3 linked regions of the Homo sapiens genome follow. The gene in region 3 interacts genetically with the main gene of each other region. Each region holds a gene or a part of one and is shown on either strand. Other genes may lie near its edges. The genes, in order: NF2, STK11 and MCM9.

What was found.
Region 1: changes in MCM9 (region 3) and NF2 together harm fitness more than expected from each alone (negative genetic interaction), as found in Homo sapiens cells (one large-scale study listed by BioGRID).
Region 2: changes in MCM9 (region 3) and STK11 together harm fitness more than expected from each alone (negative genetic interaction), as found in Homo sapiens cells (one large-scale study listed by BioGRID).

The regions. Positions count from the first base shown.
Region 1 is NC_000022.11:29,669,482-29,673,132, reverse strand, and holds part of NF2 (merlin), read right to left. Parts: intron 1,308-3,651; coding exon 1,185-1,307; intron 1-1,184. UniProt on the Homo sapiens protein: Probable regulator of the Hippo/SWH (Sav/Wts/Hpo) signaling pathway, a signaling pathway that plays a pivotal role in tumor suppression by restricting proliferation and promoting apoptosis.
Region 2 is NC_000019.10:1,212,198-1,215,848, reverse strand, and holds part of STK11 (serine/threonine-protein kinase STK11), read right to left. Parts: intron 1-3,651. UniProt on the Homo sapiens protein: Tumor suppressor serine/threonine-protein kinase that controls the activity of AMP-activated protein kinase (AMPK) family members, thereby playing a role in various processes such as cell metabolism, cell polarity, apoptosis and DNA damage response.
Region 3 is NC_000006.12:118,816,518-118,820,168, reverse strand, and holds part of MCM9 (DNA helicase MCM9), read left to right. Parts: intron 1-3,651. UniProt on the Homo sapiens protein: Component of the MCM8-MCM9 complex, a complex involved in the repair of double-stranded DNA breaks (DBSs) and DNA interstrand cross-links (ICLs) by homologous recombination (HR).

The sequences.
Region 1 (3,651 bases), on a different chromosome or scaffold from region 3:
CTGACAAGAAATGACAAGCCACATTCCCCAACTTTTCAGAAGGGCCCTTCGGGCTGCACCCATGGGGAGTAACAAGAGCACCTTCTCTGAGTACCCACCTCAGCTCAGGCTTATGCTTCACGTGGAGAAAAACAACTTAAACTCTGTTCTTTCCCTTTAAATCAGTGGTTAGAACCAGAGGAGTTTTTTGTCCCCTGCAAGAGACATGTGGCAGGTGGGGCACGGTGGCTCACGCCTATAATCCCAGCCTTTTGGGAGGCTGAGGCGGGCAGATCACCTGAGGTCAGGAGTTCAAGACCAGCCTGGCTAACATGGTGAAAACCCATTTCTACTAAAAATACAAAAAAAAAAAAGCTGGATGTGTTGGCGCGCACCTGTAATCCCAGCTACTTGGGAGGCTGAGGCAGGAGAATCGCTTGAACCCAGGAGGCGGAGGTTGCAGTGAGCCAAGATCATGCCATTGCACTCCAGCTTGGGCAACAAGAGTGAAACTCCATCTCAAAAAAAAAAAATAAAAGTACAGCTGGGCACGGTGGCTAACACCTATAATCCCAGCACTTTGGGAGGCTGAGGCGGGCAGATCACGAGGTCAGGAGTTCGAAACCAGCCTGACCAACATGGGGAAACCCCATCTCTACTAAAAATACAAAAATTAGCTGGGCATGGTGATGCATGCCTGTAATCCCAGCTGCTCAGGAGGCTGAGGCAGGAGAATTGCTTGAACCTGGGAGGTGAAGATTGCAGTAAGCTGAGATCGTGCCACTGTACACTCCAGCCTAGGCAACAGAGCGAGACTCCGTCTCAAAAAAAAAAAAAAAAAAAAGAGACATGTGGCAATGTCTGAAGATGTTTTGGATTGTTACAAATGGAGGGTGAGGTGCTGCTACTGGGATCTAGTTCCTACAGCAAAGGATGGTCAGCCCCAAATGTCAGTAGTGCCCAGGCTGAGAAGCCCTGCTATAAAGGCAACCTCGTGGTGAAAGTGGAGTTTGGCTGCACATAAGCTCAACCTAAATCTGCTTCTGCCAACACAGGTGAAAAGAAAAGGCACTGATTTTTTCAAAGCTGAAATTAAGTATTTCAAAGCAAACGCTGCTAACTCATGGTTTTCAGGAGACCAAGCTCCAGAAAAGCCAAGGAAGTCCCCAAGTAGCCTCCTGGAACCCCAGCCCCTCAGAAATCACCAGTGCTTCGTTGGCCATTGTTGCTTCTTCTTTCATCTGCAGCAGCCTCCTCTCCAACTCATCCCTCGTGCGTTCAGCCTCCTCCCTCATCTGCTTCTCTCGAGCGAGGCGCTGCCGCTCCATCTGCGAGGGGTGAAGAAAAACAGTCATTGAATCACAGGGCTCGAGACCTAGGGTGCCACAAGGGCCCAAAGATGCCCCATCTCCAGTCTCCCCTTTTGGGACCTTTTTCCTTCCCTTTCCTTTAGGTAGCCAGGGTCATTCTTATTGCCCCCCACCCCGTCCTTCTAAACCAGTTGCAGAGTTGAAAGCTGTGCCACTTGAAAAACAGTCTAGTGGTGAATGAACAAATGAACAAACAATAAAAACCTGTTGAGTCTTGACCCGGATAGAAAAAGGCATTCTTTTTTTTTGGTGGAGGGGACAGAGTTTTGCTCTGTCACCCAGGCTGGAGTGCAGTGGCGCGATCTCGGCTCACTGCAACCTCCGCCTCCCAGGTTCAATCAATTCTCCTGCCTCAGCCTCCCGAGTAGCTGGGACTATAGGCACCCGCCACCATGCCTGGCTAATTTTTGTATTTTTAGTAGAGATCAGGTTTCACCATATTGGCCAGGCTGGTCTTGAACTCCTGACCTTATGATCCACCCACCTTGGCCTCCCAAAGTGCTGGGATTACAGGCATGAGCCGCCGCGCCTGGCAGAAGGAGGCATTCTTATACACGGTGCACTGAAATGGCTACCTTGCCAATGTTGCTTTTTGTTGGGAAACCCCAGGTGGCTCTGCCCCATGGCCGATGGGATGCAATGCAGGACCTCCTCCCTCAGATAGAGCCCCAGAAATAAGCAGCTTTCTCATCTGGGCAGGCAAGCCATCTCACCATTTCTAATCCACATGGACCCCTCTCACATCTCTGATTTCATCAACAATAGCTCCACTCTTGCCTCTGACCCACAGAGAAGATGGAATCATTCTACGTGATGCATCAATAGTTCACACATTGTATTTCACAGGGGGGAGCTGCAACAGCCACAGCACAGACTTGCACAGCCTCATGTGGAGACAACTCCTGAGCCAGGCCTAGGACAGGAGGGAGCCAGGCGGGAAACACAGCCCCGTGTCCTTAAGGCAACAGCACAAAGCCACCACTACCTCCCTTGCCTTCTGGATCACTGCATTAATTGGGCCACATGCTGAGCTTAATAAGGGGAACAAGCACAAGACAGTGCCATTCCTCTGTGATCCCAGGGTACTAACTGAGTTCAAAAAGCAGAACCCAGAAGTGACCACTGCACTATTTTCTGCCTTAAATAATTAAAGCACATTTAATTACTTCTTGCTTCAATCTTATCCCACACTCTGGTCATACAAGGTTTCTAAGACTGCTGCTTTTTCTAAATCCTAAGCCAAATACACACACACACACACACACACACACACACACACAAGCTCAAAAAGATAATGCAAAGACAAGCAATAAAACAGTGAAAGTTCTTCTCCAATTTTCTCCTTGTAAGTCAATGAAAAGCTTGGCCAATTTGTTCTCTAATTTCCATCATATTACAATTTCCATAAGGTGGCTTACTACATATCTACAATTCTTTTAAAAAAAAAGAAACTAAGAAAGAAAGAAAGAAAAAGCCCAGTCAGGCCAGGCAGGCATAGCAGCTCATGCCTGTAACCCTAGCACTTTGGGGGGCTGAAGTAGGAGGAATGTTTGAGCCCAGGAGTTTGAGATCAGCCTGGGTAACATAGCAAGACCTGATCTCTACGAAACAATTAAAATTAACTAGGTGTGGTAGCATGCACTTGTAGTCCCAGCTACTTGAGGGGCTGAGGCAGAAGGATTGCTCAAGCCCAGGAGCTTGAGGTTACAGTGAGCTATGATGGCACCACTGCACTCCAGCCTCAGTGACAGAACAAGACCCTTTTATTAAAAAAAAAAGCCAGGTAATCTCCTTCAGTTCCTGGCCCTGTACTTTCCCTGAGACCTCTACCCCAATATAAAAGACCTCCTATTCACAAAAGAAGTTTACTGCATACAAAGACTGTAAGGTGTAATATACGTCCCTTCATCTGAGATGGAGAAGGTATATCATTAGTTTCACCTGATGGATGAGAAAACTAAGGTCTGGAAGGTAAGTCATTGACTTACTCACATTCTAAATTTCAGATCTGGCTCCAAGGTCAGTGTCTGTCCACCTGATCTGTGGTTGCCCAGATGCCAGGTTTGTGGCTCTGCTGTGCTGTAAGCAGTGCCGATCTGCAGTGTTCCTGCTATTCTCTGCCAGGGCCCACAGACTGCATATTCCCTGACACTTTCAGATTTCTTACTTCTAAGCTTTGCTCTGCTAAGAAAAAGGTCAAAGAAAGCTCTCCTCCTCCTTCTTATTTATTTACTTATTTATTTATTTATTTTGGTATTTTGTTTCTGCTTCTGTTTTAAAACAGGGTCTTGCTTGGTCACCC
Region 2 (3,651 bases), on a different chromosome or scaffold from region 3:
AGGAGAATCGCTTGAACCTGGGAGGCGGAGGTTGCAGAGAGTCGAGATCTCACCACTGCACTCCAGCCTGGGTGACAGAGCAAGACTCCATCTCAAAAAAAAAACTTGGGGTGTCAGGGGTATCCCACGACCCAGCCTTCCCCACCCCCAGCTCAGGGCTGCCTCTTGCAGGAAGCCTTGGCTCACCTTTCCCTCCCAGTGCACCAGTCCCAGGGCTCATTGCTCACTGCCCTCAGGGCAACCTCAGAAGGCCAAGGCCTGAGCTCTGCCAGGGCTGCAGGCTGTGCTGGGGCTGGGCCTGGACAAGGGGCCGCCAGTCTGGGGAGGGGCTAGGAGAGCAGGATGAAGGGAAAGCAAGGTGTGATGGGGACGGGGCACAGAGGGACACAGTCCCCCAGAAGCGGAGCCAGTGAGCAACTGGTTCCGGCCCCTGGCTGTGCCCGGTGCCCTGTCGGGCTGCCCAGCCCTGAAAGCGTCCCCCACTTCCACTGGTCACCGCAGGCCTGGTCTGCTCGCTGAGAAGCCCTGTGTTTCCGTTCTCTCTGGGCTATGTGGTGGTGGCACCAATTCCCAGCAGGGCCCGGCAAGGTTATTTATAGAACTGGCCAGGGCCTGTGTCCACAGCCTGGCAGGCACCCAGGGCATTGAGGGGGACGCTGAGGGTGAGGCTGGGCTCGGCAAAGGCCCCGGGGCCCAGCGCCTTCCTGCCTGCCAGGCTGCTCAGGAGAGCTCGGGGTGGGCCCGAGAGGCCCGGCTCAGCCCCAGATCCCCTTGTTCCCCAGGGCTCTGTGTGCCCCTAACCTCCCCCGCTGATGAAGGTCACAGGCCATTCCTGGGAGGCAAGACTTGCCTTCTATTCAGAGGAGATGCGGTGGCCGGGGGGCGGGGAAGGTGCTGTTTTCAGACAGCAGAGGCCAGATGCTCGGACGCACAGGCCCCAAGAGCCTGATGCTCCACCAGGAGGCGAAAGCACCCCCTCCCTCAGCAGGAGCCGGCTACCGGCAGGGAAGGTGGCCCAGGACACTATTCCAGCCTCCTCAGTGGAGCTGAGGGAGCCACGGGCCTTCAGGTCCAGCACCGCTCTGGCCCACCTCCTGCTGCCTGTGCAGGGACCACCCCACACCCACCCAGGCTCCAGCACAGTCCTAACCCTGAGGAGGGGCAGTGAGGCCAGGAGCTCAACCTGCATGCAGCCTCAGAGCCTCGTGGGGGCCGCTCGGGAGGCTGCACGGCCCTAAAAGCAAATGAGGGTGGAGGACTCCCTCCTGGAAACCTCCCTGCGCCGGCCACCACCTGCCGACACCATGTCTCCTCCATGAGCCATCATTCTACAGATGGGGAAACGGGCACAGGAGGACTCGCCCTCACCGAAGGCGCCCTGCCCTGCCTCCACCTCAACGGGGACACTTCACAGCAGCAGGACACACAGCAGCTGAAACGTGGAAGAGCCCAGGCACTCCTGAGCAGGTCAGCATAGACCAAGGGACACTGGGTTGTCTGTTTAATTAAAAGGGACCAAGGCATTCTGCGCAGGCACGTGCGTCCCCCGATTTATGCCAGGGGAGGAGTGGGGGTGGAGCCACCCCCGCCTGGTGGCAGTCACCTCCGGGATGATGGGTGCACATCAGCTTCTCTAGATCGCCAGGCTTCCTCTGACGTCTCCAGCCAGAAAAAGAGCAGAAGAGGAGGCCCAGCGAAACCTAAGAGCTTGGCGAGGAACAGGAAGAGCCTCCAGGAGGGGGAAGCCCGGCTCTTGGGGCATCGCCAGCCGCTCCGAGGTGCCACGTTAGGGGCCTACTGGGCTTGCCCAGGCAGCATGGACTGTTTAGCTGACTTGTTGATTAGCAGGACAGGAAATAGGAAGGAGAGTCATAAACGCCACTCAAGCTCACAGAGAGGTGGGGCTAGGAGCCTCCGTCTGCCTAGAAACAGATCATACAGGGAAGAGATGGGCCTGGCCCTCGCCCCGGCCTCCCACGGCTCAGAGCAGGACTGGGAGGCACATGGAGACCCAGGAACACCCAGCTCCAGACCCGCGTGCCCTGGTCCCTGAATCCCTCCTGATGTGGCTGAAACAAGGCCCTCAAGGATTCTAGAGGGACGCCGGCTGAGCACACGTGCACCAAAGCAGCCACAATTCACAGGCAGAGGCGGGAGCAGCCCAAGTGTCCAGCCACAGATGAGCAGTCAAACGCAGCGTGGCCCTCCACACACTGGAAAGTGACGCAGCCGTGAACAGCAGAGAGGTTCGGACCCAGGCCACGGCGCGGATGCCCCTTGAGGACAGCACACTCCGTGAGACAAGCCGGACGCAAAAGGCCACGCGGTGTGTGACACCACTCGTGTGAAATGTTCAGGACAGGCCAATCCAGAGGCAGGAAGGGAATGCGTGGGTGCCGGGACTGGGGAGGGAATGGGGAGTGATGGCTGACAGAGACGGGGTTTCCTTCTGGGGTAACAAGAATGTTCTGGAAGCTGATAGAGGTGATAGTTGTGCAACTCTGTCAATGTACTATATGCCACTGAATTACACACTTTAAAAAGGTGAACTTTGCCGGGTGCGGTGGCTCACACCTGTAACCCCAGCACTTTGGGAGGCCGAGGCAGGCAGATCACGAGGTCAGGAGATCGAGACCATCCTGGCTAACACAGTGAAACCCCATCTCTACTAAAAATACAAAAAAATTAGCCGGGCATGGTGGCAGGCGCCTGTAGTCCCAGCTATTCGGGAGGCTGAGGCAGGAGAATGGTGTGAACCCGGGAGGCAGAGCTTGCAGTGAGCCAAGATCACGCCACTGCACTCCAGCCTGGGTGACAGAGCGAGACTCCATCTCAAAAAAAAAAAAAAAAAAAAAAAAGGTGAACTTTAGGCCCAGTACTATGGCTTACACCTGTAATCCCAGCACTTTGGGAGGCCAGAGAGGATTACTTAAGGTCAGGGGTTCAAGACCAGCCTGGGCAACACAGCAAGCCCTTGTCTCTATAAAATAAAAAATAAAAAGGTGGGCCGGGCACAGTGACTCAAGCCTGTAATCCCAGGACTTTGGGAGGCCGAGGCGGGCGGATCACAAGGTCAGGAGATCGAGACCATACTGGCTAACACGGTGAAACCCCGTCTCTACTAAAAATACAAAAACAAAATTAGCCAGGCTTGGTGGCAGGCACCTGTAGTTCCAGCTTACTTGGGAGGCTGAAGCGGAGCTTGCAGTGAGCCAAGATCGTGCCACAGCACTCCAGCCTGGGGGACAGAGCGAGACTCCGTCTCAAAAATAAATAAATAAGTAAATAAAGGTGAACGTGGCGAAGCAGTGGCTCATACCTGTAATCCCAGCACTCTGGGAGGCCCAGGCAGGCGGATAGCTTGAGTCTAGGAGTTTGAGACCAGCCTGGACAACATGGCGAAACCCCATCTCTACAAAAAACTAGTCGGGTGTGGTGGTGCACATCTGCAGTCCCAGCTACCTTGGGGGCAGGAGGGTCACCTGAGCCCAGAGCTATGATTGCGCCACTGCACTCCAGCCTCGGCGATACAGTGAGACCCTGTCTCCAAAAAAAAAAAAAAAAAAAAAAAAAAAGGTGTTAAGAAAATTGAGTCCAGTTTGAGCAATACGGTGGCGTTTGTGGGATATACGGGCCGTCCAGCCGCCTCAC
Region 3 (3,651 bases):
AAAAGCTAGCAGAAGACAAGAAATAACTAAGATCAGAGCAGAACTGAAGGAGATAGAGACACGAAAAACCCTTCAAAAAATCAGTGAATCCAGGAGCTGGTTTTTTGAAAAGATTAACAAAATAGATAGACCGCTAGCCATACTAATGAAGCAGAAAAGAGAGAAGAATCAAATAGACACAATAAAAAAATGATAAAGGGGATACCACAACTGATCCCACAGAAATACAAACTACCATTAGAGAATACTGTAAACAACTCTATGCAGATAAGTTAGAAAATCTAGAAGAAATGGATAAATTTCTGGACACATAAACCCTCCCAAGACTAAACCAGGAAGAAGTTGAATCCCTGAATATACCAATAACAAGTTCTGAAAGTGAGGCAGTAATTAATAGCCTACCAACCAAAAAAAGTCCAGGACCAGACAGATTCACAGCCAAATTCTACCAGAGGTACAAAGAGGAGCTGGTATCATTCCTTCTGAAACTATTTCAAACAATAGAAAAAGAGGGACTCCCCACTAAGTCATTTTATGAGGCCAGCATCATCCTGATTCCAAAACCTGGCAGAGAGACAATAAAAAAAGAAAATTTCGGGCCAGTATCCCTGATGAACATTGATGTGAAAATCCTCAATAAAATACTGGCAAACTGAATACAGCAGCACATCAAAAAGCTTATCCACCATGTTCAAGTCAGCTTCATCTCTGGGATGCAAGGCTGGTTCAACATACACAAATCAACAAACGTAATCCATCACATAAACAGAACCAGTGACAAAAACCACATGATTATCTCAATAGATGCAGAAAATGCCTTCAATAAAATTCAACACCCCTTCGTGCTAAAAACTCTCAATAAGCTAGGTGTTGATGGAAAGTATCTCAAAATAATAAGAGCTATTTATGACAAACCTACAGCCAATATCATACTGAATGGGCAAAAGCTGGAAGCATTCCCCTTGAAAACTGGCACAAGACAAGGATGCCCTCTCTCACCACTCCTAGTCAACATAGTATTGGAAGTTCTGGCCAGAGCAATCAGGCAAGAGAAAGAAATAAAGGATATTCATATAGGAAGAGAGGAAGCTAAATTGTCTCTGTTTGCAGATGACATGATTGTATATTTAGAAAACCCCATCATCTCACCCCAAAACTCCTTAAGCTGATAAACAACTTCAGCAAAGTTTCAAGATACAAAATCAATGTGCACCAATCACAAGCATTTCTATACACCAATAATAGAGAGCTGAATCATCAGTGAACTTCCATTCACAATTGCTACAAAGAAAATAAAATACCTAGGAATACAACTTACATGGGATGTGAAAGACCTCTTCAAGGAGAACTACAAACCACTGCTCAAGGAAATAAGAGAGGATACAAACAAATGGAAAAACATTCCATGCTCATGGATAGGGTGAATCAATATTGTGAAAATAGCTGTACTGCTTAAAGTAATTTATAGATTCAATGCTATTCCCATCAAGCTACCGTTGACTTTCTTCACAGAACTAGGAAAAACTACTTTAAATTTCATATGGAACCAAAATAGAGCCGGTATAGCCATGATAATCCTAAGCAAAAAGAACAAAGCTGGAGGCATCACGCTACCTGACTTCAAACTATACTGCAGGCTACAGTAACCAAAACAGCATGGTGCTGGTACCAAAACAGATATATAGACCAATGAAACAGAACAGAGGCCTCAGAAATAACACCACACATCTACAACCATCTGATCTTCCACAGACCTCACAAAAATAAGCAAGGGGGAAAGGATTCCCTATTTAATAAATGATGCTGGGAAAACTGGTTAGCCATATGCAGAAAACAGAAACTGGACCTGCTCCTTACACCTTATACAAAAATTAACTCAAGTTGGATTAAAGACTTGAATTTTAAACCTAAAACCATAAAAACCCTAGAAGAAAACCTAGGCAGTACCATTCAGGACATAGGCATGGGCAAAGACTTCATGACTAAAATACCAAAAGCAATTGCAACAAAAGCTAAAATTGACAAATGGGATCTAATCAAACCAAAGAGCTTCAGCTCAGCCAAATAAACTATCATCAGAGTGAACAGGCAACTTATAGAATGTGAGAAAATTTTTACAATCTATCCATCTGACAAAGGGCTAATATCCAGAATCTACAAGGAACTTAAAAAAATATACAAGAAAAAAAGCCATCAAAACTGGGTGAAGGATATGAACAGACACTTCCCAAAAGAAGACATTCATGCAGCCAACAAACATGAAAAAAAGCTCATCATCACTGGTCATTAAAGAAATGCAAATCAAAACCACAATGAGATACCATCTTACACCAGTTAGAATGGTGATCATTAGAAAGTCAGGAAACAACAGATGGTGGCTAGGCTGTGGAGAAATAGGAATGCTTCTACGTTGTTGGTGGGAGTGTAAATTAGTTCAGCCATTGTGGAAGACAGTGTGGCGATTCCTCAAGGATCTAGAACCAGAAATACCATTTGAACCAGCAATCCCATTACTGAGTATACACCCAAAGGATTATAAATCATTCTACTGTAAAGACACATGCACACGTATGTTTATTGCAGCTCTATTTACAATAGCAAAGACTGGGAACCATCCCAAGTGCCCATCAATGATACACTGGATAAAGAAAATGTGGCACATATACACCATGGAGTACTATGCAGACATAAAAAAGGATGAGTTCATATCCTTTGCAGGGACATGGATGAAGCTGGAAACCATCATTCTCAGCAAACTAACACAGGAACAGAAAACCAAACACCACATGTTCTCACTCATAAGTGGGAATTGAACAATGAGAACACATGGACACAGGGAGGAGAATGTCACACACTGGGGCCTTTTGGGGGGTGGGGTACAAGGGGAGGGAGAGCATTAGGACAAATACCTAATGCGTGTGGGGCTTAAAACCTAAATGATGGGTTGATAGGTGCAGCAAACCACCATGGCACATGTATACCTATGTAACAAACCTGCATGTTCTGCAAATGTATCCCAGAACTTAAAGTAAAAAAAAACAAGAAAGTTGTCCTTCTGGCAATATTTCAGTTTCTAATATGCCCAAGATATTTAAAATGATTTAAAATCATTTAAAATGATTATCACTGAACAGATCTTTCATTCGTAGAAAGTAAATAGATTTTAATTCTGTATCAAATTGATAAAAGAGTAGCTGCCCAGTAAATATGTTTAAACATGCCTGGGCTTTGCAGGAAAGATTGTCACAGTTGCCTGGGGAGGTCTGCCATGAATGGGAGTACAGGAGGCGGCAGTGTGAGCACCAGTACAGAAGTATCACAGACTCTTGACTCCTGAGGAAGGTGACTGCTCAGATGCACTCAGTACCTCAACTGGGTAAAGAGATGTGAGACCTCATAATCCCCAGTCTTTCACTTTGGTTCCTTGATCTGCAAACTGACTACTAAGCAAGTTAGCCAACAACCTACTTGGTCAGCAATCAGCTACTGTGTGGGTAGCAACAGGTCTGTCTTGTATTTGAACATTTAACATGAGAGATAAAGCTGAGGATTTTACACTGATCTTCAAACAATCTTAAATGAATGAATTGGACTTTTGGAGAGATCTAAAAATGTAGACAAATCTCCGATTTCATTTTCTTTATTTTACTA